Homo sapiens: one gene and its partners. The protein of the gene in region 7 purifies or fractionates together with the protein of the main gene of each other region. This does not show direct contact. Each region holds a gene or a part of one and is shown on either strand. Other genes may lie near its edges. The genes, in order: ACVR1B, ADCY6, TMEM33, DSG2, ABCB1, ABCD3 and SLC43A1.

The links.
Region 1: the proteins of SLC43A1 (region 7) and ACVR1B purify together in Homo sapiens (affinity purification with mass spectrometry; one large-scale study listed by BioGRID and IntAct). This does not show direct contact.
Region 2: the proteins of SLC43A1 (region 7) and ADCY6 purify together in Homo sapiens (affinity purification with mass spectrometry; one large-scale study listed by BioGRID and IntAct). This does not show direct contact.
Region 3: the proteins of SLC43A1 (region 7) and TMEM33 purify together in Homo sapiens (affinity purification with mass spectrometry; one large-scale study listed by BioGRID and IntAct). This does not show direct contact.
Region 4: the proteins of SLC43A1 (region 7) and DSG2 purify together in Homo sapiens (affinity purification with mass spectrometry; one large-scale study listed by BioGRID and IntAct). This does not show direct contact.
Region 5: the proteins of SLC43A1 (region 7) and ABCB1 purify together in Homo sapiens (affinity purification with mass spectrometry; one large-scale study listed by BioGRID and IntAct). This does not show direct contact.
Region 6: the proteins of SLC43A1 (region 7) and ABCD3 purify together in Homo sapiens (affinity purification with mass spectrometry; one large-scale study listed by BioGRID and IntAct). This does not show direct contact.

Annotation. Positions count from the first base shown.
Region 1 is NC_000012.12:51,958,199-51,961,698, reverse strand, and holds part of ACVR1B (activin receptor type-1B isoform a precursor), read right to left. Parts: intron 2,440-3,500; exon of another isoform or gene 2,209-2,439; intron 1,644-2,208; exon of another isoform or gene 1,512-1,643; intron 1-1,511. UniProt on the Homo sapiens protein: Transmembrane serine/threonine kinase activin type-1 receptor forming an activin receptor complex with activin receptor type-2 (ACVR2A or ACVR2B).
Region 2 is NC_000012.12:48,772,090-48,775,589, forward strand, and holds part of ADCY6 (adenylate cyclase type 6), read right to left. Parts: intron 3,362-3,500; coding exon 3,214-3,361; intron 2,966-3,213; coding exon 2,868-2,965; intron 2,690-2,867; coding exon 2,602-2,689; intron 2,430-2,601; coding exon 2,313-2,429; intron 2,010-2,312; coding exon 1,851-2,009; intron 1,559-1,850; coding exon 1,380-1,558; intron 455-1,379; coding exon 419-454; intron 336-418; coding exon 206-335; intron 1-205. UniProt on the Homo sapiens protein: Catalyzes the formation of the signaling molecule cAMP downstream of G protein-coupled receptors. Functions in signaling cascades downstream of beta-adrenergic receptors in the heart and in vascular smooth muscle cells.
Region 3 is NC_000004.12:41,938,429-41,941,928, forward strand, and holds part of TMEM33 (transmembrane protein 33), read left to right. Parts: intron 1-173; coding exon 174-268; intron 269-767; coding exon 768-955; intron 956-3,500. UniProt on the Homo sapiens protein: Acts as a regulator of the tubular endoplasmic reticulum (ER) network by modulating intracellular calcium homeostasis. Mechanistically, stimulates PKD2 calcium-dependent activity. Suppresses the RTN3/4-induced formation of the ER tubules.
Region 4 is NC_000018.10:31,539,677-31,543,176, forward strand, and holds part of DSG2 (desmoglein-2 preproprotein), read left to right. Parts: intron 1-1,516; coding exon 1,517-1,638; intron 1,639-2,469; exon of another isoform or gene 2,470-2,645; intron 2,646-2,843; coding exon 2,844-3,176; intron 3,177-3,425; exon of another isoform or gene 3,426-3,500.
Region 5 is NC_000007.14:87,598,085-87,602,317, reverse strand, and holds the start of ABCB1 (ATP-dependent translocase ABCB1), read left to right. Parts: upstream 1-1,433; 5' UTR 1,434-1,492; coding exon of another isoform or gene 1,493-1,563; intron 1,564-2,127; coding exon of another isoform or gene 2,128-2,133; coding exon 2,134-2,201; intron 2,202-4,233. UniProt on the Homo sapiens protein: Translocates drugs and phospholipids across the membrane. Catalyzes the flop of phospholipids from the cytoplasmic to the exoplasmic leaflet of the apical membrane.
Region 6 is NC_000001.11:94,484,389-94,487,888, forward strand, and holds part of ABCD3 (ATP-binding cassette sub-family D member 3), read left to right. Parts: intron 1-3,153; coding exon 3,154-3,223; intron 3,224-3,305; coding exon 3,306-3,403; intron 3,404-3,500. UniProt on the Homo sapiens protein: Broad substrate specificity ATP-dependent transporter of the ATP-binding cassette (ABC) family that catalyzes the transport of long-chain fatty acids (LCFA)-CoA, dicarboxylic acids-CoA, long-branched-chain fatty acids-CoA and bile acids from the cytosol to the peroxisome lumen for beta-oxydation.
Region 7 is NC_000011.10:57,498,703-57,502,202, reverse strand, and holds part of SLC43A1 (large neutral amino acids transporter small subunit 3), read left to right. Parts: intron 1-828; exon of another isoform or gene 829-873; coding exon 874-1,051; intron 1,052-1,159; coding exon 1,160-1,215; intron 1,216-1,347; coding exon 1,348-1,424; intron 1,425-3,500. UniProt on the Homo sapiens protein: Uniport that mediates the transport of neutral amino acids such as L-leucine, L-isoleucine, L-valine, and L-phenylalanine. The transport activity is sodium ions-independent, electroneutral and mediated by a facilitated diffusion.

The DNA of each region.
Region 1 (3,500 bases), on a different chromosome or scaffold from region 7:
TTCCTGACCTATTTATTATAGTATGGACGAATGGAGAGGAGACCGTGTATGTCACAGTTTTGAGTGAGAAGAGGGATAGGAATGATTGTTTCAGGCAACTGGGACAATGGAAAAGGAAAAAAGAAATCAGCCAAACTGAGAATAAAACTAATGAGGTTGAGAGATCAAGTTCATTTGGCTGGAATAAAATGGGTAGGTGGTAGGATAAACAGAGATGAAAGAGGTGAGGTAGAAAGAGAGATTATGATGTTCCAAGTAACTCACAAATGTTTGCGGCATTTTTTGAGTAGGTTTAAAATACTATATATACAAGATTATAATAACATTAGAGCAAAACAGAATTGGAATTATTTACCTAGGATTTTACTGAGAGGATGGAAAAGAAATGAATTAATTCAATTAAACAAACTTATTAAGTACTTGAAACATGCAAGGCTCTGTGCAGGCCGAAGCCATATAACAAATAAGCCAGCTCCCCGCACCAATTCTTTGGGCATGGAGAGTGGGAGAAGACAACTATAAACAGTGCAACTCCAACTACCAATACAGGCTGAGGGGAAAAGCAGAGAGGATGGAATCACTGACCGGGAGAACACAAGAGGACGAAGGTCCACACTGGAGGACGCTGGGTTTGGCTAGGAAGAGAAGTGGGGAGAAGCATTCCAGAGAAAAGGAAAAGGGAAAGCAAAGGGCTGTGAAAAAATATTAGCTACACTGGGTTCAGAGTAAATTGACAGTTCGAACAATGCCAAGGTTCCAGCCAAAGGCAAGAAGAGTCAGGGAGACTAAGACCAGATGAAACTGATTGCAATGCTAAGCTAAGGGGTCTAGAGTTGATCCTAGAAGCCACACAACCTCTAGGTCAGACAAACAGGGTGCATTTCCAAAGTTAGATCTAGCCGTAGGATGGAAAACAAATGGGAGATTGAAGGCAGAGAGCCTGGTTAGAAGGTCACTTTTACAGTACTCACAGTTTATAGCACAGTACAATATTTAGAGCACATGTTTTGGACTTGGATAGACTTTGGACCCACTGCTTAACTTCTCTATGCCCTAGTTTTCTCATCTGTAAAATGGGAATAAGAGCCCCTAGCCCCTCAAAGAATAACTACATAGAGTAAATGATACAACACAGGTGCTTAGCATAATACTTTAGTATATAGTAAACATTCAGCAAATCAGATGCTTTTATTACAATTGTCACCTGAACTCCTCATAGTTTGTGGTAGTTCCAACAAGCAGAAAAAAAGTCCATTTGTGTGTAAACTTTTTTTTTTGAGACAGGATCTCACTCTGTCACCCAGGGTGGAGTGCAGTGGTGCAATCATGGTTTGCTGTAGCCTCAATCTCCTGGTCTCAAGCTATCCTCCCACCTCAGCCTCCCAAGTAGCTGGGACCACAGGCACACGCCACCAAGCCCTTGTAATTTTTAAAAATGTTTTGTAGAGACGAGGTCTCACTATATTGCCCAGGCTAGTCTCAAACTCCTGGACTGAAGCGATCCCCTGTACCTCATTCTCCAAAGTGTTGGGATTACAGGCATGAGCCACTGTGGCCGGTCTCTGTGTGTAAACTTCCAAAGGGCAAGGACAGACTCTTTCCTCAGGATCCCTCTCAGCATTCAGCTTGGTGCTAGGCACATCCTGGATATCAGAAATGAACACTGACTGATTACAATTCAATCTTATCTTCTACAGGTATAAAAGGTAATATGCAAACATATACCAAAGCAATATACAAGGATGTGGGGCAAGGTGAGTCCTCTACCACAAAAAAAAAAAAAACCCAGAAAATACTTCAATTCCCAGATTCCTCAACTCAAACATCCCAAGCACCTAAAAAACTTATTTCCAAAGCATCCACAATCCCCTCTCCCCTCCACTCACAAATATCTAGAAAAAAGTTATAGTCAGATGAAAGCCACATGTGGTCAAAGGATTTATTTTTATATGTGAGTGATGGGATGGCTGGGCACCAGGTCTCAAGTACCCTCATGCCTATCTTGGGGTATTTCTCATTATTCCCCTCTCTTGCTTTACCTATTTTCACCATCACCATTTGACTCACCCCCACCCAATGCATACATTTTTTAAACCACCACCTAGTTACTATTTCACAGTTCCTACAGGTCAGAAGTCCAGGCACAGCACCGACAGTGCCAGTTAGGGCTGCCTTCTCATCTAGGATTGGGTCCTCCTCCAAGCTTACTGGTTGTTGACAAGATCCACTGCCTTGCAGATGAAGGACTGAGGTCCCCATGTTCCTCCTAGCTGTCAGCTGGGAACCACTCTCAGCTCCTAGAGTTTGCCTGCAGTTCCTTGCCATGTGGCTGTTGGGATCGGCAGTTCACAACATGGACGTCTGCTTGCTTCCAAGCCAGCTGGAACATCTGATTTCCTCTTGTGCAATCAGCTGAGAAATCTCTCTGCTTTGAAAGGGCTAGTTCAATCAAGACAGACCCACCATGATAACCTCCTTTAGATGGCTAAAGGTCAACTGATTGAGACCTTAATTCTATCTACAAAGACTAGCATTTGACTGAATACCTGAAGCAGGTGTGTGTACACCAAACATGGGGAATCTTGGGGAAGTGAGGAGCAGAAGGTGGACTGTAGTAGGCACAACTGCTTTACATTTTATACTTTTGTTTATTGTCCACCTCACCTGGCAGAAGGTAAGCTTTCTGAGAGAAGGCAATTTTGTCTCCTTTCGTTTACTACTGTATCCCTAACACCTGCAACAATGCCTAGTATATGACAGGTGCTCAATAAATATGTGTCAAGGGACCCTTTGGATCAGGGGTCCCCAACCCCTGGGGCCACAGACCGGTACTGGTCCACGGCCTGTTAGGAACCAGGCCACACAGCAGGAGGTAAGTGGCAGGCGGGTACCTGAGCTCTGCCTCCTGTCACATCAGCGGCGGCATTAGATTCTCATAGGAGTGGGAAACCTACGGTGAACCGCGCATGCGAGGCATCTAGCTTGCATGCACCTTATGAGAATCTAACATGCTTGATGTGCCTGATGATCTTTCTTTTCTTTTTTTTTTTTTTTGAGGAGTCTCACTCTGTTCCCCAGGCTGGAGTGCAGTGGCGTGATCTCGGCTGACTGCAACCTCCGCCTCCCGGATTCAAGCTATTCTCCTGCCTCAGCCTCCTGAGTAGCTGAGATTACAGGCATGCGCTGCCACTACCATGCCCGGCTAATTTTTTATTTTCAGTAGAGATGGGGTTTCACCATGTTGGCCAGGCTGGTCTTGAACTCCCAACCTCAGGTGATCCACCCACCTCGGCCTGATGTGCTTGATGATCTGAGGTGGAACAGTTTCATCCCAAAATCATATCTCCCCTACTTCCCCTGTGGGAAAATTATCTTCCACGAAACCAGTCCCTGATGTCAAAAAGATTGGGGACCACTGCCCTAGATCACCATGGTAGGTACTCAACATGCATATGTTTAGTTTGCAGTCTGGAAATGGGACTTCTAACTACATGTATTAA
Region 2 (3,500 bases), on a different chromosome or scaffold from region 7:
ATGAGGCCTAAAGAACAGGCAAAGGGGTAAAGGGGGCAGGTAGAGGATGGGGCAGGGAGTAAGGGATGGGCACAGAGAAGGAATGGAACCAGGGTGGGCCTAGGTGTGGCCTGAGCCTTAGCCAGCTAGCACAAGATACATTTCTGGCCTGGCCCAGGCTCCGCCCCTAGGTTCCTCCTCTTCCCCCAAAGGCCCACACAGTCACCTGTAGTTTCCAGAGGAAGTCTAGGCGGGCAGTCGACTCCACCTGCTGAGCATGCAGATACAGCGCCAGCGCAAACACCAGCAGAATCACAGGGGTCATATATTTGAGGGCCACCCTCCCTGCAGCTGGACTAAGGATAAGCAGAGACATGCTTGGTGTCTGAAGGAGGCATCTAATGGCTCTACCCTTTGCTGCCTCGGAGCCCTCACTTACCAGTCCAGCCCATCAAAGGTCTCATTGGAAGAAGCCCTGGTAAGAAGATAGAAGAGACAAAGTCATCAGTGCTTCCTGGATTGCTGGGTGGGCACATGGAAGGGGAGACAAGAGACTGCATTTACTGAGCACATACTGTAAGTCAGGCATTGGGCCAGGGCTTTTACTTACATTAATTAACTCATTAAGAGTAGAGGTTAAGAAAACCTCTGCTCTTAGAGACTCCTCTACTTACCAGCTATGTGACCTGAGACAAGTCGCTTAACTCTCTAAGCCTCCTTCCTCATCAGTACAACAGGGATCAGATCTAAATAATGTATGTAAAAGGCTTAGCACAGTGCCTGCCATATAGTCAGCCTTCCATAAATGTTAGTTACTATAATCTTTACAACTACCCTGTGATTTAGGTGACATTGCCATTTTACAGATGAAGAAATTGAGGCTCAGAGAAGCTAACTCACCTGTCTAAAGTCACACAGCTAATGAGCAGCAGAGCAGGGATTCAAACCCAGCAGAGACCAGAGGCTTTTTCTACTACAACAAGCTATGGCCACATATCAAAGGAATGGGGTTTTGCAGAGGAAAAGCCAGTGTGGTGTCCCAGGCAAAGCCCCCAAGCAGGAATCAGAAGCTTTGGTTCCTAACCAGAGCCCTGCCACCAAGCAGCTGTATGTCCTATAGGTGGTTAAGATGGTGGATGTGAAAGCACCATGCAAATGTAAGAGGGAATTTTTTTTTTTAATGTCTAGCCTAAAGACACAAGGATTTCCCAGGACTAGGGTTTCCTTGGGGGTAACTATTTGGGGTCACATGCTGGGAGCTCCTCCATCTCCTCCCTTTCCCCCACAGGGGTGTTGTGGCATTCCAAGGCACAAGGGGCATGGGCACCAGAGAGGCTCACAGTGACCTAGAAAGGTGAGGGAAGCTCCTGGGGTATTAAAGGACCTGAGAATAAACTCACAAGCCATGGACGCCAAGCAGTAGGTCATAGTTGTCAAAGATGGTGGCTGGGGGACCCAGCAGAAGCAGCACCAAATAGATGAGCCCCAAGACAAAGATCATGGCCAACTTCCCGATGCTGCTGATGTGCAGGAAGACAGAGCTGGCCAAGAGACTCAGCAGCATGTTCCCGATGAAGTACTGCGGGGGTGGCAGAGGCAGCGTTGGGTGAAGGCAGAGGCCACAGCACCCTTGGGCAGGGAGAGCCCTGCACTCTCCTGCCTGACCTAACCTTCCCACCACACCCCTCAAACCCCCATATCCTCCACCTTCCATGCCCAGCCCCTACAACACACCAGGGCCCCTGGTTGCTCCTAGTGTGGGAGACTCTGGTGAGTTCCTGGGTCCCCAGCGCCCATCACCAGGCCTGGCACAGAAGGGCCAATGTCTGTGCCAGGACAGCCCCCCCACCGCCTGAGCACTGCTCGAACACCTCAGGAAAGCTGCAGGTGGGCATGGTGCCCTCACACAGGGGAGCATCCAGGCCCAGAGAGTAATTGAGCTGCTGCAGGTGGCAGGCAGTGATGTCAGCAGGTGTTAAATTCAGCATCCGGGCTGCACAGCTCCGTATGGGGGTGTGGTTACAGGTGAACTGCAAAAGTGGAGGGGTATATCAGGGTAACCAAGGAGGGAAAGGGTTGCAAGGTACCTGGTGAAGCCATGTACCCTAACCTGGGCTATGCCCAGGTACCTTATACCCCATGGGCCTTAGTACTCACTCAGGGATGACAAGAGGTTGGGAGAACAAGGAAGGAGAACCGGAGTTAACCTTCCCCTATTCTGGGAGGGGGCTCCCTGAGGGCAGAAAATATGTCCTTTTCTCCGCTGTACTCCCAGTGTCCAGGACAGTGCTTGGCACAGAGCAGAGGTGGGAGAATTCCCACTGGACCCTTACCATGTTGGCAATGGCAGAAGTAAACACAAGCAGGACGGAAAAGATGCCAACTGCGGTGCTATGTGCCCGTGAGCGGACAATGCTGCGGGACAGACGTTGCAGGGCCTTAGGGAACAGCTAGAGGCATCAAGAGACCAAGAGTTGAAGGTTGTATCAGCCAAGGAGGAATGGCAACCAGGGATGGGGCCCAGTGGAAGAGGCATGGCCTTCTCCCTCTCCCCATGTGACCTCCTCCCTGTCTGGAGTCCAGCCTGCCCTCCCCAACAGCCTCAGAAATCCCCTTACGTACAGAACCACAGGAGTACACAGCACAGATCAGCACGGTGATTAGCAGCAGCAGGAAGATGCTGGCATAGATCCCAAGCATCAGGGTGGAGCTGGGGCAGAACAGGGCCAGAAAAATCATTTAATTCTGGAAGATCTGGGCATTCTTGTCCCACCCTCTGGAACAAGCAGGGATGCAGGCTCCAGGGATTGTGGGCTTGTGTGGGTATTTAGGAAGCTTCTGGGAAGTGGTGAAGAGAGAAGCTAAGAGAGGAAAGGCAGGGCTCTCACTGTGGGAAGATGAGAAGCTGGATGAAGCAGATGAAGCAGAAGACCAACAGGGCACAGGCAACGTAGGCTCCGAAGCGGGGATCCACCTTCCGGGAGTACTGAGGGAGAGGAGGCTGAGCTGAGTGCTGGGCCCTCCCTAAGGAAGGCAGGGACAGCAAGGACAGGGCACTACCAGGGGTCTCAACAGGGAGGAGATGCAGTTGGCTCAACTGATGAAATCCTCACCCTGCTCTGTGGTCCCTTCTCCATCCCCCAGAAACACCTGTGCCCTCACCTGTGCTCAGCCTTCCCTGCTGCGACCTGCCCCTCCCCCAGCCCTTGTCCTTCTGCCCTGTATCCCTCAAACCTTCTTCTCAAGATCCTCTCTCTGGAAGGTGAGCAGAAACCGGCGCACATGGTCCTTCCGCAGCTGATCAATGCTGCGGGCATCGATGGCACGGCTCAGGAACTCATCCACCTCATCCTCAGGGTTCAGGGCATCTTGGGTGCCCCGGCTGAGGGCAGGAGACATGGTTTCACCAGTTGCATGGGCATGGCCATGTGAGAAACAATGAAAGGAAAGGTATGGACAGCACCTGAGGGAGGGAGGGAGAGCCAGGGGGGTGGCTCCTGCTCCCACACAACACTCCTAAG
Region 3 (3,500 bases), on a different chromosome or scaffold from region 7:
CATTAAGCATATACATGAAACATGTAATTGCCTTAGAGTTTTCACCTAATGATCTAAAAAAACAAATGGAGGAAGATTAAAATATTTTGAGTAGACATAAAAACCACACAGTCTTGATGCTTAAAAACATGATTTGCAGGCATAGCTTACAGTATTTTTCTTTTTAAATTTAGCAATTCATGATGACCAATAAACTGGACACGGCAATGTGGCTTTCTCGCTTGTTCACAGTTTACTGCTCTGCTCTGTTTGTTCTGCCTCTTCTTGGGTATGTATTATACATATTGCTGCCTTTGATATTCAATTGTTGAGTCAGTTTATATGGAGTGCCTTTTAGGTGTAAGACTTATTAACCTGTAAAGGGTTTAGGGACAAATAAAATACAAGTTCCAGCCTTCAGGTACTAACAACCTAATAACATTATCAGAGGAATATTTTATATCTTGTGCTTTGTGAAACTAACACATTGAAAATCCAAGGAAAAATTGATGTGTGGGAATGAGATAAGTTCATGTTTTTTTCATTTTTACTTATTACTTGACAGGAAGGTCCTGCTTTATAAAATTCAATTTTATAAATTGATTATAAGAAATTCAGTTGGGCATATATATGAAGTGAAGCTATTAAAACGGTAGAATAAGTTCATGTAATTTTTTTCTATTGACAAGTGATTTAGGTGTTGTGCAATTATGATGCAATTCACAAAGGAGGAAGAGACACTGCAGTTGTTTATGTCTCATGATAACCTCTCCTCTGGTAATTTGCAGGTTGCATGAAGCAGCAAGCTTTTACCAACGTGCTTTGCTGGCAAATGCTCTTACCAGTGCTCTGAGGCTGCATCAAAGATTACCACACTTCCAGTTAAGCAGAGCATTCCTGGCCCAGGCTTTGTTAGAGGACAGCTGCCACTACCTGTTGTATTCACTCATCTTTGTAAATTCCTATCCAGTTACAAGTATCCTTTTCTACCTTGTTAACAATGAAATTGCCAACTAAGCATATAGGAGATCTCTTCTGATTATTTCAGCAATGAAGGCATTCCATGAAGCCTGGGTTTGTTCTCGGCACTTCATTTGAATGAAGATATGTTTAGTGTAAGAATTTCTGACTTTAAAATGTGAAATCTAAACTTTGAAGAGCTGATTTAGGAATTTTAAACTATCTTTGTTCTTGCCTCTTGTAAGCTTCCCTATTAGAATGGATATTTTCAAATTCCCCTTCGAAGCACAACCTTACGCAGAACTTACTTTAATATTTACATTTTTTTCATTTAATTCACGTTTTTGGCAAAGTGTCCAGATGTCTTGCTTTAAAAAAGAGAGGTCCTCAGCTCTTTCCATCTTAACCCCAGTGAACTAGATACAAATGGAATTTAACCAAGAAACAACTTATTTAAGCAGGTAATGAGATAATCAATACAAAGAAATTAATATTTGCTGTGTATAGAGTAGAAAATAAGGACACACATGGATAATCCGTGAAGCTAATGAGAAATAATTCATTTGGAATTTGTATGTTTTCACATTTCAAAGGTGTGTTGTGGGATGATACTGGGTAGTCCATAAAGGAGGGGAAAAATGGGGAAGAGGTTCTATAGTGAACACTAGGTTAAACTTTCTTTTTTTTTTTTTTTTTTTTTTTTGAGACAGAGTCTTGCTCTGTTGCCCAGGCCACCTGCCTCTGCCTCCCAAAGTGCTGGGATTATAGGCGTGAGCCATCACGCCCAGCCAGGTCAAACATTTTTAAATAGGGTTCTTTACTATAGTGGCTTTGGTATTCTAACGTGTGTTGTGAAACTAAGAGAGTTAGTAGGGTTTTTTAAACTTAAATTTGTGGTTGTTTTTTTTCCTGTAGATTATCTCTGCAAATCATTTTGTGCATTGAGAAGTGCTGGTCTAAGAGCTTTTGAATATTTATGATACATCTGTATGTTATGTAAAGCACAATAAAATATTCCTCTGAGACTGAATATTACCTATTTAGATACCTATGCTCATGAAGTATCAAATTTTTAAATAGATTTTTATAAGTCTTAAGGAAAAGAAATAGGAGGAAACCGAAATTTCCTGAGCACCTATTTTGCCAGTATAAGAACTTGAATTTAGGCCAGGCGCGGTGGCTCACGTGCGGTGGCACTTTGGGAGGCTGAGGTGGGCGGATCATGAGGTCAGGAGATTGAGACCATCCTGGCTAATATGGCGAAACCCCATCTCTACTAAAAATACAAAAAATTAGCTGGGCATGGTGGCATGTGCCTGTAGTCCCAGCTGCTCGGGAGGCTGAGGCAGGAGAATCGTTTGAACCCTGGAGTGGAGGTTGCAGTGAACTGAGATTGTGCCACTGCACTCTAGCCTGGGCGACAGAGCGAGACTCCTTCTCAAAAAAAAAAAAAAAAAAAAAAAGAACTTGACATTTAATCTTTGTAGCACTCTGAAAAAAATTGTTGTGGTATATTTTTAATAAAGATGCTGATTTGCTGATTGTCAGTATTCACTTCCCACACATTGGCTAGTAAGTAGTAATGCTGAAAAAGTCTTTCTAACTTAAAAGCTCTACCTTATCTACAGTTAGTGGGTGAGTAATACTTAAGTATACATTAAAAATATTTCTTTCTGTATGTGGGTAAACCTGGTAATTTCATTTAAATATTCAGTATATGGAGATTCCCTTTAAATTACTCACTTCACTGAGATAATGTGGGTAGTTTGAAATGTAAGGATAAAATTTTTCCTGTTTCAATGCATGAGTCTGTAATGTCCCATCATAATTTGTATTGGTTTATTTTTAGGTAAAACTCATTAAATGATTACTATACTACAACTGTAAATGATAATCACATTTGTTTGGCATATTATTGGCTTGACCAGCCTCTGTTGATTGAAGTGCTTTGCAGTCACCAATGTTAAAATTCTAGCCTTTCTGAGCTATAACGGGAAGTTATGTAGAGATTTTTGGTCATGCCTTTTAGTAGCTTAAAATTTCTTTGGAGGGAGAAATAGAAATGACAGAAAATGTGTTTCAATGTAGGGTAAACTGAATACGTCAATAACTTTGGGAACAGTGCCTCACACAGATCAGGCACTCAGTAAGTTTTGTTGAGTGAATCCTGAGGTCTTGCCAAATGAGACTCATGACTGGTGAAGAAAACCTTTCTGCCTTTTTATACAGTTGGTTATTTGGTAGCCCCTCTTTCCTGGGAATGTTGAAGATTAAGGATTTCATATTCCTTAAATTCTTACAAAGGGAATGTAGTAAACAGTGGGAATAACATAAACTAGTAATTGGCAGCAAATGCTAATCTGATTATTAAAGTGATATGGTAATAAATAAAAGCGGGCCCAAAGTAATATTACAGATTTGCGTTCTGATCCTTCTTCTTATAAAAGTGATATTTTGTCCTTGCTTGATTAATAACAGATAGGGCATTTCACCTCTTATCTTTTCTAAATACATTGTATTAATAGTTTAAGAGTAATGTTGAAGACTAAGATTATGAATCT
Region 4 (3,500 bases), on a different chromosome or scaffold from region 7:
GGCAGCCTAGGCTAGTGCAGTGACAGAGGAGAGGTCTGTTAGACAAGGGGTCCCCAACCCCCAGGCTACAGACCAGCACCTGTCCATGGCCTGTTAGGAACCAGGCCGCACAGCAGGAGGTGAGTGGTGGAAGAGTGAGTGAAGCTTCATCTGTATTTACAGCCACTCCCCATCACTCGTGTTACCACCTGAGCTCTACCTCCTGTTAGACCAGTGCTGGCATTCGATTCTTATAGGAGCTCAAACTCTATCGTGAACTACTCATGCCAAGAGATCCAGGTTGCGTGCTCCTTATGAGAATCTAATGCCTGATGACCTGTCACTGTCTCCCATCACCCCCAGATGGGACCATCTAGTTGCAGAAAAATAAGTTCAGGGCTCCCACTGATTCTACATTATGGTGAGTTGTATAATTATTTCATTATATATTACAATGTAATAATAATAGAAATAAAGTACACAATAAATGTAATGCACTTGAGTCATCCCAAAACCAACCCCCCTACCCCTAACTTCCCTGTGGAAAAACTGTCTTCCATGAAACCAGTCCCTGGTGTCAAAAAGGTTGGGGACTGCTGTATTAGAGCCATTGGTAGATGTGCAATTGAAAGCACAGCACTCAACAGTCTGCAGTGTACTTTTATACCATCATCTCCATGCTATGGCTACATATACAGATACATAACGGTAAATGACTTGTCTCAGCTTACCAAGTTTGTAGGTAGGTACTGGAGCTGGGACTGTATCTTTTGCTCAGGGATTCCTTGCACTGCTTTCTCATCTCAGATTCCCTGGAGCCTAATGTGGTACTTGGCACATAATAGACACTTGATGAATGTTTGTTAAAATTGTTGAATTGCCACTGGCTGATTTCAGTCTTCTTATTAATCGTAGTAGCTGTAGTTAATGTGCTGTTGACTGTTTGACATAAAAACGAATCTAGGCAGTAGCCAGTTCATCATTGGAAGCTGCCAAATGGGAGTGGCAGATGGGCATGCAGGTGTGTTTAATTCTTTACTACATTGATCAAGGGGTCAGCCTTGGTCTTTGCTTCCTCCTAGGGGTAAAATAAAATCTAAGAAGAGGGCTCTGAAATTGTTATATGTTTCACTTTATTATTTCTAATTACTGTTTTCAATAGTACATATATTTTTGCAACAGTGATTTTTTTTTAATTGGACCATAGTTTTAAAAAAATTAATCTTTAAGCTGGTTTTGATGATTTGGATACTATCTGAACCTAGTCTTGGTATTCCACTCAGCAGCCACAGACAGCCTCTTTTTGATGAACAAGGCCTTGAATCTGTAAGACTCCCTCATCCTGCCTTCGGGTTTTGGAGTAATTCACCCAAAACAAGCTTGGTAAGGTTGGATCAGGGTGAAGAAAAGAAAAATAGAGCTGTAAATAAGTGAAGACAAGTCCAGGAAGGGACATGCAAATTCCAAAATTGTGCAATATAAATTTAGAAATATATCAAGGTTAACCTTATCTGTGTTCAATTTTGTGTCTGTACAGTGGTACCACTTTTACTGCTGATGTGCCATTGCGGAAAGGGCGCCAAAGGCTTTACCCCCATACCTGGCACCATAGAGATGCTGCATCCTTGGAATAATGAAGGAGCACCACCTGAAGACAAGGTCAGTGGATCAGATGTCAATATGACTTGTCTTCTTCTTGGGTTTTAAAGGGGCCTAGGGAAGTGTTTCTTACATGTTTGGTTGAGTGAGTAAAGTGATCACTATGGATTTCACTCATGTGCCTTTGTTAAGCAAAGAGTTCAAATGACAGCATATTTTGTGTTTGTTGCTGGGGCAGAATTGAGATAGTTTTACTCTGTTTTGACACTTCCCATGTTGTAGAGAATGTAGAGCAAGGTTCAGGAAGAGCAAGAGTGTGTAGGAATCTAAGTCTTTTGTCCTAACATTAAATGGGCAGTTTTCATAACCAGGAACTGCTTCATTTCCATTTCCCTCAATACATAGGGTTTGCAGAGGTAAGCCCACAACCCCCATGACACTTGTAAAATGTTGCAAAACCCCATTTCCCAACTACATCATAGCCATATCCCTTTGTCTCTCTGTTGCACCTTCACCCTGGACCTCTCACCACCATCTGTTATGAGCACCATTTCTAATAGGATAGGATTTAGCATCAGGTGGCAGAGAACTCAGAATAACAGTGGCTTAATCCTAAAATGGGCATTCCAAGATCAACATGATGATTCATCCGCAGCATGGTCCCCAGTTCCCTCTTCCTTGTTTTTCTTCCATGGTTGAGTTCCATTCCCACACTGTCCTCATGTCCTAGTTCTAGCTACCTAGCTGCCGTCCCCACATTCTAACCAGCACATGGGAGAAAAGTGAAGAACCCTCTTTAAGCACACTTCCCGGAACTTGTGTACACCATTTCTGCTTCATTCACATTGACCACAGTTTAGTCAGGTGGCTATACCTAGTGGCATCAGAGGCTTAGAAATATAGTCTTTATTTTGGGTGGCCATGGATCCAGGTCAAAACAAAGTTAAGAATTCTGTAACTATAGAAGAAGGTATCAAACTGTAGAGGGAGGTTGAAATGCCATTGGTCGCATAGAGTAAAGGAGCTGAGACTGTTTGGGCTTTGTTTTCTCTTTGGGTTCTATCCACCTATAAAACAAGAAGAGAGAAGAAAGGAGATCTTCATAAGACTTACATAAGTTATTCAACTCAAAATACTTTTTCTAACTGGCCTCAGTGGAAATAGCTTATACCTTCCTATGCCCACTTGACTCAGATCCTTCTACCAAGGATGAAGGATTCCCTCCATCCTCCTGACTCAGTTCTCAGCTGTGTTTGCTCTCACAGGTGGTGCCATCATTTCTGCCAGTGGATCAAGGGGGCAGTCTAGTAGGAAGAAATGGAGTAGGAGGTATGGCCAAGGAAGCCACGATGAAAGGAAGTAGCTCTGCTTCCATTGTCAAAGGGCAACATGAGATGTCCGAGATGGATGGAAGGTGGGAAGAACACAGAAGCCTGCTTTCTGGTAGAGCTACCCAGTTTACAGGGGCCACAGGCGCTATCATGACCACTGAAACCACGAAGACCGCAAGGGCCACAGGGGCTTCCAGAGACATGGCCGGAGCTCAGGCAGCTGCTGTTGCACTGAACGAAGAATTCTTAAGAAATTATTTCACTGATGTAAGGATGAGTTTTATGTATTGGTGGTGGGGGGTGGGGGGAACATTTGTATGTGAATGTGATATTATTAGGGTAATCATTGCCTTGGATCCAAATGAGACTTTGGGTTTTTTTTTTTTTTCTTTTTTCAGGGAATACTTATAGGCAATAAGGAAAGAGAAATGGGACCCACAGAATCAGTCGGTGTTAGCTAAATTATGCTGCAGTAACCATGATCTTAGTTCTCACACAGGCATATTTCTCACTTACAGTTATGTTTTTGCCAGTCAGTCAGCTCTGCTTTCCTTCATGATGTCTTCATATCAAGATGCACACTGAGAGAGC
Region 5 (4,233 bases), on a different chromosome or scaffold from region 7:
AAAAAAAAAAAAAAAAAAAAAAAAAGAGGCCGAGCTGTAGCTCACGCCTGTAATCCCTGCACTTTGGGAGGCCGAGGCGGGCGGATCACGAGGTCAGGAGATCAAGACCATCCTGGCTAACACAGTGAAACCCAGTCTCTACGAAAAATACAAAAAATTAGCCGGGCGTGGTGGCGGGAGCCTGTAGTCCCAGCTACCTGGGAGGCTGAGGCAGGAGAATGGTGTGAACCCGGGAGGCGGAGCTTGCAGTGAGCCGAGATCCTGCCACTGCACTCCAGCCTGGGCGACAAAGCAAGACTCCGTCTCAAAAAAGAAAAAAGAAAGAAAAACAAAAGAAAACTTCATTGTATTGTAAGGCCAAGAACAAAATATATCAAGATAAGGAAAATTTGTAGTCAAGAATAGAAAAAAATTATGGCTTTGAAGTATGAGTTATTTAAAGAAAGTGGAAACATCCTCAGACTATGCAGTAAAAAACAAAGTGATTTTCTTCTTCTAAACTTATGCAATAAACTGATAGGTAATATGTGAAAGTCATAGAATGTAGACTAGAGGATACAACAAACCTATTTCCTCTATGTTCATAAGAAGTAAGAAAAGCTCTGATGTGAGTTAGCATTGCTTTACAATTTTGAATTGTGCAGATTGCACGTACTTTTCCTCAGTTTGAAGTAAATAGTGGACAGGAAAAAATATTAAATGTTGGCAGTAAATATGGAAGGAAATTACAACTAATGTAATATGCTAAAACATGCTATGTTTATTTTACTAATTTGAATTAAAATGTAAGAATTTAAAATGCCCTGGAAAAACACGGGCATTGATCTGACGTCTGAAGTTTTAAAATATTACACACTTTGAAATAGCATTTGTACCTTGAAATACCTGTCTCTATATATTTTTTAAAACTTCCTTTTTCTTTCATTCCATTTATCATCAAATAAAGGATGAACAGATGTAACTCAGAAACTGTCAAGCATGCTGAAGAAAGACCACTGCAGAAAAATTTCTCCTAGCCTTTTCAAAGGTGTTAGGAAGCAGAAAGGTGATACAGAATTGGAGAGGTCGGAGTTTTTGTATTAACTGTATTAAATGCGAATCCCGAGAAAATTTCCCTTAACTACGTCCTGTAGTTATATGGATATGAAGACTTATGTGAACTTTGAAAGACGTGTCTACATAAGTTGAAATGTCCCCAATGATTCAGCTGATGCGCGTTTCTCTACTTGCCCTTTCTAGAGAGGTGCAACGGAAGCCAGAACATTCCTCCTGGAAATTCAACCTGTTTCGCAGTTTCTCGAGGAATCAGCATTCAGTCAATCCGGGCCGGGAGCAGTCATCTGTGGTGAGGCTGATTGGCTGGGCAGGAACAGCGCCGGGGCGTGGGCTGAGCACAGCCGCTTCGCTCTCTTTGCCACAGGAAGCCTGAGCTCATTCGAGTAGCGGCTCTTCCAAGCTCAAAGAAGCAGAGGCCGCTGTTCGTTTCCTTTAGGTCTTTCCACTAAAGTCGGAGTATCTTCTTCCAAAATTTCACGTCTTGGTGGCCGTTCCAAGGAGCGCGAGGTAGGGGCACGCAAAGCTGGGAGCTACTATGGGACAGTTCCCAAGTGTCAGGCTTTCAGATTTCCTGAACTTGGTCTTCACGGGAGAAGGGCTTCTTGAGGCGTGGATAGTGTGAAGTCCTCTGGCAAGTCCATGGGGACCAAGTGGGGTTAGATCTAGACTCAGGAGCTCCTGGAGCAGCGCCCAAACCGTAGTGGCACTGGACCATGTTGCCCGGAGCGCGCACAGCCCGCGCGGTGCGGGGACCTGCTCTCTGAGCCCGCGGGCGGTGGGTGGGAGGAAGCATCGTCCGCGGCGACTGGAACCGGGAGGGAGAATCGCACTGGCGGCGGGCAAAGTCCAGAACGCGCTGCCAGACCCCCAACTCTGCCTTCGTGGAGATGCTGGAGACCCCGCGCACAGGAAAGCCCCTGCAGTGCCCATCGCGGCCAGAGCAGCTGGGGCATCAACGGCGGGCGCTCCCTCTTACTGCTCTCTGGCTTCGACGGGGGACTAGAGGTTAGTCTCACCTCCAGCGCGCCTGAGGCTCATGCATTTGGCTAATGAGCTGCGGTTTCTCTTCAGGTCGGAATGGATCTTGAAGGGGACCGCAATGGAGGAGCAAAGAAGAAGAACTTTTTTAAACTGAACAATAAAAGGTAACTAGCTTGTTTCATTTTCATAGTTTACATAGTTGCGAGATTTGAGTAATTTATTTCTAGCCTCCAGCTCTGAAATAAATGACATGTTGTTGTTTTTAATTATTTTTAAGAAACGCAAGCTAGCCTTTGGAATCAATATCCCTGCTTAGAGCAGAAGTTTGTTGGCTGAGTGGAGCACAGCATATGCATTTTCCCTGTCTTTTTTGTTCTTTCTTTTAATGATACATAATATTTTACATATTTATGAAATGGGGTACATGGAAGCGTTTTTTACATGCCCGGAATGTGTAATGATCAAGTCCGGGTATTTGAAGGATACATCACCTTAGGTATATTTCATTTCTATGTGTTGATAACATTTTAAGTCTTCTAGCTACTTTGAAATATACAATATATTGCTAACTGTAGTCACCCTCGTCTGCTATCGAACATTGGAACTTATTTGTCCTATCCAACCGTTCTTAGTCATTCACCAACCTCTTTTCATTTCACCTTTTTACCCTTCCCGGCCTCTTTCCCTTAGTCTTGGTGTGCCTCTTTCTCAGCTTTCCTGCCCCAGACAGGCGGATGCTCATATGTGTTTCTGTCTTATGAACTTCTGCTTTTCAAGTGGTGTTGGTCGCCCACACGTGAGCCATATGCTGCTGGTGATCTGCTCTGTGGTCCAGGCTCTTGCTTCCGGTAAATGGCTATGTAAACATCGCGTTTGTGGCCTGGCTGATGAGACAGAAGGTCAAAAGTACATTTAGGTTGTTAACTGGCAATAAATATCTGTATATAATATTGGTAATGTAATCATATAGGGAAAATAATTATTTAAAGTAAATTTTGATCATGGTGCTCTGCCTTTATAGAATATTTAAAACTTCACTAAATAGATTCATTGTTAGTAGTAAATTGTAAAATAGACTAGTAAGTTTAATAATATTAGAAACTGTAATGTAAATTATAAGATAAATTAGTAAACACATTAATATTATAAGAAACCAAGCTTTTCAGTGTAAGAGAAAAAATACAAATGTGGAAATCAAATACATTTTTAAAAATAATGTTAAGTTTGAATTAGAAATTTCAATATGAATTCATAATCTTTTAATAGTTCATTTTCAGTCCACTGAAAGGGACAGTAACAATGAGCACTGTTAGTACCAGATCTGGGTTTCTAAATACCATTCCTCCCTAAAAGAAATGAACCCCTCAGTAGCTAATTTCAGCCAGGTCTGGGACAGGAAAAATAGAAAGTGAGCCTGGAGTATCTTGTGGTACCTGAAAATAAGGAAGTGGAGTTTAATGGAGTAGTCGAAAGCACACTGAAGCTGTCTGGAAGATGCTTCCAATGGCCAACTCTGGGACAATTTGAGCATCAAAGAACATCGTAACTGTAACTGATTTTGAGATACTGAATGCTACTGCTGAATGCTTAATATTCTGAGAGAAGGGAAACTGAAAGAAAGTGTGAGAGGTAGAGAAAATAAAGCAATGATCTTTAGAGAAAAATTCCAGCTATCATTTTGGAACTTCCATTGTTATAATAGATTCAGGCAAGGATTGTCAATGAACTCTAAACTATCAGAAAAATGTTGTATCTAAGAATTTTCTTCAGAATGTTTACTAATTGGAAGGAGAATATGCTTCTCCAATTAAAGATTTTGCAGTTAGCACCTTAACCGAGTGATCAGACCTGGTATCTCTCACGGTAGAATGGACTGTAGTAAATGACTCATCACTTGGATTTTGAGTAAACAACATCACCTAGCAAATATTAATATATCTGCAAAAACATTTAGTCTGTATACAATTAAACTTGTAGACTGGGGCTGTCCAATGGATATATCATGTGAGCCACATTTGTAATTTAAAATTTTCTAGTAGCAACAGTAAAAAATGAAAATAAAAAGATAAAGTAATTTTGTAAATATATTTTATAGAACTCAATATGTCCAAAAGATTGGATTTTCTACATGTAATCAAAATGATTAATAAGATAGTTTACATTCTCTTTTATGCTAAATCTCCTGTTTGATGTGTA
Region 6 (3,500 bases), on a different chromosome or scaffold from region 7:
AATGTCCATCAGTGATAGACTGGACAAAGAAAATGTGGCACATATACACCATGGAATACTATGCAGCCATAAAAATTATGAGTTCATGTCCTTTGTGGGGACATGGATGCAGCTGGCAACCATCATTCTGAGCAAACTGTTGCAAGGACGGAAAACCAAACACTGCATGTTCTCACTCATAGGTGGGAATTGAACAATGAGAACACCTGGACCCAGGGTGGGGAACACCACACACCGGGGCCTGTTGTGGGGTGGGGGCCTGGGGGAGGGATAGCATTAGGAGATATACCTAATGTAAATGACGACTTAATGAGTGCAGCACACCAACATGGCAAATGCATGCATATGTAACAAACCTGCACGTTGTGCACATGTACCCTAGAACTTAAAGTATAATCAAAAACATAAAAAAAAAATTAAGTGTATTTTTACAGAGGTTGCTTAGGAGCCTTATTTAGTGATTCCCACAGAAAGAATTTGTTCCTGAAGCATTCATGAAAATACAATAAAGATTATTATGTAAAGCAAGAGTCAGCAAACTTTTTCCATAAAGGGCAAGATAGTATGTATATATTTTAGGCTTTTCATACCACACAGTGTCTTGCAACTATTCAGCTCCGCTACTCAAGAGTAGCTATATATAATACATGAATGAGTGGGTGTGGCTATGTTCTAATAAAACTTTACTTAAAAAAACAAGTAGCAGGCTAGATTTGGACTATGGGTCAGAGTTTACTGGCTTTTTGTTTTAAAGAATATAAGCATTGTTTCTTGTGAAAGCTTTACTTCAGTTTTTATTTAATTGCCACTTGGAAAATTTGAATTCAAGTACTTTTATTCCATTATTTATTCAAAAGATATTGAATGCCGTCTAGTTGCCTGTGCTCACTCCAGGTGCTAAGGATGATGGTGGTGGACATGATGGATAAAATCTTGCCTTTAAGGAGCTTACATTTTAGTGGAAGTCTGAAGTTTGTGAAATTAAATGTATATTTTAGATGAGTTAAAGAGGTTAAAGAAATTGTCATTTTAAATTATTTCAGAAATTGGATTTTTGCCTCGTCGGTATTTAACATGGCAGAACTTTTAGAGTGCTCACTGGTAGAATGCATTTAAGGTAATTTTTCAGGGGCCTGCAGTTCACCAGTTTGCTCTCCACACGGCTTGCTTATTCTCATCCTTTAGATTTTCAGCCCAAATGTTAACACCTTATTGAAGCTTTGTCTTCTCTGATCAGCCTATTTGAAATGGCCTCCAACAGTTACTTCTTGTTTTAATCATCATCTTTCCTTAAAAGTATATATATATTTGCAGTCAACCCTCTGCATCTGTGGGTTCCAAATCCATGGATTCAACCACACAGATTGAAAATATTCAGAAAAAGAAATTGTGTCTGTACTTATGTACACATATTTTTTTCTTGTCATTATTCTCTGAACAATACAGACATTAGTGTAATAGCTATTTACATTGTATTAAGTTTTATAAGTAATTTAGAGATGACTTAAAGTGTTTGGGATGAGCCAGTTGCGGTGGCTCACCCCTGTAATCCCAGCACTTTGGGAGGCTGAGGCGGGCAGATCAGTTGAGGTCAGGAGTTCGAGACCAGCCTGACCAACATGGCAAAACCCCATCTCTACTAAAAATACAAAAATTAGCCGGTTGTTGTGGCGGGGGCCTATAATCCCAGCTACTCGGGAGGCTGAGGCAGGAGAATCACTGGAACCCAGGAGGCGGAGGTTGCATTGAGCCAAGATGGCACCACTGCACTCCAGCCTTGGCGACAGAGTGAGACTCTGTCTCAAAAAGTAAATAAAGTGTATGGGATGTCGTACTCAGGTATATGCAAATACTATGCCATTTTTCATCAGGGACTTGAGCATCCATGGATTTTGGTATCCAGAAGGTCCTGGAACCAATCCCATCCCCTTTGGATACCGAGGGATGACTGTATTACAGTCTCTAATTATCTTGTTTACTAGTTATGCTCTTTCATTAGAATGTAAACTCCATAAATTCAGGGACCTTCTCTGTTCTATTCATTGTATCTCCAGCTTGAGCACAGTGTCTGACACATGGTAGTCATTGAATAAATGTTCCAGAGATTGTCTAGTTGCAGAAGATACCAAGTTGTTAACAAGCTACCCTGTACTCAGGAAGCCACATTTTAGTGGAGCAGACAATAAATAAACAACTAGATGTTCTGTATAATTTCAGGTAGTAATGAATTCGGTGGCCAAAAATGAAGCAGGATAAAGGGATAGATATGAAGGGGGCTATTGCCCAGCTACTTTAGCTGGAATGGCCAAGATCTTTCTTGAGGAGGTGACATTTAGTCAGAAATCCACATGAAAGTGAAGGAGTCACAAAATATAGATACCTTAGAAGAATGTATTCCTGGCAGTGAGAAGAGCAAGAGGAAATCCTTAAGAAGGTACATGTTTGAGAAACCGTTATTTCTGGAGCTTGGTGAGGAGGAGCAAAGTAGAAGCATATGACCTTAAAAATAGAGCTCAGTGCCAGATCATGCAGGACCTTGAATAATCTGGTAGATGGACAGTTTGAGAACACTACAACTCCAGAATAAAAAAGCAGTTTTAGACTTGTAGTTTTAAGACAATGCGTGCTCATGTTAAAGCTAAAACTGAGGCTGTGTGGCACTGATTTACATTAGCACTCAGTTCAGATTGGGTGTAATACAATTCTTAGATAAAGCACAGACCATGTGTCTCCACTGAAAGCAAAGCATTCAGTGCCAATCCGGACAGCTAGTGTTTCACTCAAACTAGTTAATCTCTGTTCTTTTTGCTTTCGTTGTTGTCCTCTTTTGGGATATGTGTATCCAAAAGCATGGTGACTACAATAGCATTGTGCTATTGCATGCAAGAGAAACAGCATTGTTAAAATTGTTTATGTAATTTCCATGCTGTTTGCATAAAAATGGTTTCATGAAGTGTTTGTTTGGCACCCGCTCTGTGAAGAGCATTGTCCTCGGTGGTGTGATGTACAATATAAACAGAATATAAACAGAAATCACGGGCACTCAGTAAATATTTGTTGAATAAATGAACTATACAGTTTGTTTTATCCTTATAGTAGATTCAGTTTTTTATACAGAGAAAAAGATGGTTTTTTGTTTTTGTTTTCTGCCAGGTGGAACACCTACATAATTTCATTTTGTTTCGGTTTTCAATGGGCTTCATTGATAGTATTATTGCCAAATGTAAGTATATTTTGAAAGAGATGAGATTTGTGGAAAAGGTGAAATACTGTTACTGTTTTAAATCTTACCTGTTTGGTTTCAGACCTTGCCACTGTTGTTGGTTACCTAGTTGTCAGTCGCCCTTTCTTAGATTTGTCTCATCCTCGACATCTCAAGAGTACACATTCGGAACTTCTAGAGGTAAACTGATGATAATACAATGAAAATGTAACAGTAAAAATAAAGCCAAATTTTTAGTCATAGAACTATAAGTAAAAACTAATATTTATTTCTATTT
Region 7 (3,500 bases):
GGGGGCAGCCACCTCATGACTCACTGAGCATTGAGTAAAGCGAAGCAGCCCTTTGTCTCCTATCACTAGCTTTTCTCCTTAACTTGTCACAACTCCAAGTTGGCAGTTTACCGTTAAGGACAAGTCCTCCAAGTGGACTTCTAGAGGGGACTGGAGGGCAGTGCCTGGTTCTCATTCTGTGCCTCAGCTTCATCACCTAGGGAACGGGATACTTTATTAACTGACTTATGGGGCTGTTGTGTTTAGAACAGTGCCTGGAGCATAGTTAAGTGCTCAATAAGTATTAGCTATTATTTTATCAGACTATCATTTATCGGGAAAGCTTCCTCTAAGTTTTAGTGTTCTTTCTAAATTTCTTTTTTTTATTTAGAGATGGGGTTTTACCATGTTGCCCAGGCTGGTCTCAAACTTGTAGGCTTAAGCGATCTGCCTGTCTCAGCCTCCCACAGTGGTGGGATTACAGGCATGAACTACCACGCCGGGCCATTTTAATGAATTCTTGTTATAGCCATTAGAGTACCACTCACTGCCTTTGCCTTTGCCTCTAGATATGGGGGCACTTCTTGTTGGGGGTCCACAACCCCCTAAGCTTGGACACTGAGTGCATATTACAACTTAGTAAATACTTTTATGTCCAGTATTTCATTTGAGCTAGTTGAAGCCTCAGGCTGTGTGTGCACAAGACTCTCCCAGGGTCAGGTACTAATGGCTGCCATTTCTGGAGCAGCCCCATCAGAGGAGATGTGACTCTAGGGTACCCCCAAAGGCACTTGGCATGGGATTTGAAAGCAGGCCGCCTGACTGTGGGCTGCTGTCTCCTGTGCCCAGCTGTTCCTGGTGTCATGTGCTGAGCCCTCCCTTCCCCCTCCTCAGCTGAGAGCAGCACCAACACCACCCAGGATGAGCAGCGCAGGTGGCCAGGCTGTGACCAGCAGGACGAGATGCTCAACCTGGGCTTCACCATTGGTTCCTTCGTGCTCAGCGCCACCACCCTGCCACTGGGGATCCTCATGGACCGCTTTGGCCCCCGACCCGTGCGGCTGGTTGGCAGGTGAGGTGGCTGGGCTATGGGGAACGGGAGGACAGGGACCGTGCTGCAGGGGGAGGGGAGGGGGGGTGCTCACAGGCCAACCCCTCGCCCTTCCCTGTGTCTCCACAGTGCCTGCTTCACTGCGTCCTGCACCCTCATGGCCCTGGCCTCCCGGGACGTGGAAGGTGAGTTGTCTGTCCTCTTGTGGCCCCACAAGAAAAGAATAGGTGGGATGAAGGCGGATGTTTACCCCAGCTCCCGCCCTTGGCTTCCCACAGCTCCCCAAATGCCCTCATCTGCTGCTTTCCCCTTTCCAGCTCTGTCTCCGTTGATATTCCTGGCGCTGTCCCTGAATGGCTTTGGTGGCATCTGCCTAACGTTCACTTCACTCACGGTGAGTGTCACAGGCCTGGCCTGGCAGCAGAGTTCCCCCGAGTGGGGTGAGGGCAGAGTGAGTGGGGTGAGGGCAGTATGAATGGGCTGGGGGAGGGGCCTGTGGACGCAGATCACTAGATCAAGTGAGTGTGTGAGAAACTGTGCAGGTGGCTGCAAAGAGCAGGTGTGAGGCTGTGTGTGTGTGGATGAGGCTGTGTGTCGGGGTGTATGTTAATGTGTGTGTTTGTGTGTACAGAGCCCATGAATGTCCATGGAGCTCTGTTCTAGGTCCTGGACTACAGCACAATCAGGACTGACCGAGTCATCCTCCCTGCTGGAGGTTACATTTTGGGGGTGAGGGGCACAGATAACCCAATAAACAAGTAAACTAATAAATTATGTCAGTCGTCATAGGTGCTGGGAAGAAAATAAAACTGGGTAACATGATCTTGAGGGGGAGGGAGCAGCTTGAGATAGCGTGTGCACGCTTGCCATGTCGTGGGAGAGTGGGTGTGTGACCCCGTCCCTGTGAAAGCCATGAGTTGGTAGGTGTGTTTGTGAGTGTACTAGGTTGAACCATATGAAATTGTCGACACCTCGTCGTGCACATGGCTTGACCTATTACATGTGGTGAGTGGTGTATGTGTGTTGCTCAAAGTGTGTTTATTTATGTGAGTGTGTAAACGCGTTAAAGGCTTAGGAGTGTTAAAGGCTTAGGGAGGTTGGAGGGGAAGGTTCCTGGCCGGGCTGGCTCGGACTGTTTATCTCTGAGAAGGGCTGCCTGACTGGGTGGTTTTGGCTGAATTTCACCTCTCCCCAGCAGCCGCCTTTAATTCCAACCGGGGACATTTCACAGCTCTAAAGGAAGGAAGCGGATCCCTTTCTCCCCGCCCCTCTGCGCAGCCCCTTCTCCCTGCTGTGCAACTTGGCCCAGGGCCCTAAATCCCTTCTCTCCGGCGCTTGACCTCAGACCCTCCCTGGCGGCCGGGTGGGGCTTGTCCAGCGGCTCCTCCCTGCTATGTCCCCGCCTCCTGTAATCTCCAGCCAATGGCAGGGTCCGGCGCTGGCACCGCCCCTCAGCCTCTCCCCGCTCCCTCTGGCCGGCCCCGCCCCCTGGGCCGCTGCTCTTGGCCCAGACTTGGACGAGGACGTCCCGTGCTGAGTCTTGCGGGCCCAGCTGCTGTTGCCACGCACGCTGCAAGGCCGCCAGCCCGGGGTTAGCCGGCCGGCCTCGCCTTACCCACGGTACTGGGCGCAGACAGCGTTTGTGGCCCCTTGGAGGGGAGGGGGCCCTGCCCCTCTCCAGGCCTGGCAGCCTTCCGTGGCGTCCTTGGCAGTGGTGCCTCACGGATGCAGGGTGCAGGAAAACCTCTGCCTGAGTGGGTAGAGGTTTTTCCTGAGCCAGCCACTTCAGGGGAAGGGGGAAGGATAATTTAGTTATATGTGTTTAAACACCATTTTTTTTTTTTTTGTTGAGACGGAGTCTCGCAGTGTCGCCCAGGCTGGAGTGCAGTGGCGCGATCTCGGCTCACTGCAACCTCTGCCTCCTAGGTTCAAGCAATTCTCCTGCCTCAGCCTCCCGAGTAGCTGGGACTACAGGTGCACGCCTCCACGCCCGGCTAATTTTTTCGTATTTTAGTGGAGACGGGGTTTCACCGTGTTGCTCAGGCTGGTCGCGAACTCCTGAGCTCAGGCAATCCACCCGCCTCGGCCTCCCAAAGTGCTGGGATTACAGGTGTGAGCCACTGCGCCCGGCCTAAACGCCTTTTTTACCAGAGCTGTTGAGGCCTCCCTTCAGAGTCTCAGTTTCCCCCTCTGTGGAGTGTGTTTAGGCTTTGTACGGATCCTAAGGTCCTTCTCAGCTGTGGGATCTAGTGACTTGGGGAGGATGGTGGGGCCAGAGGAGGGTGTGTGCGAAGGGCATCCTGACTTTGCCTTCCCCTGCCCTGAGGGCTTGGCTGAGGCAGGTGAGTGGAACACATGATCAATTAAATTCTCTCCTGGTGTGGGTTCTGACCCTGCTCTGCGTCAGAGCCACCTCCTCTGGAGACTGTCTGCCCTGGCTCAGTTCCCTCCCTTATTTCCACCCTCACCT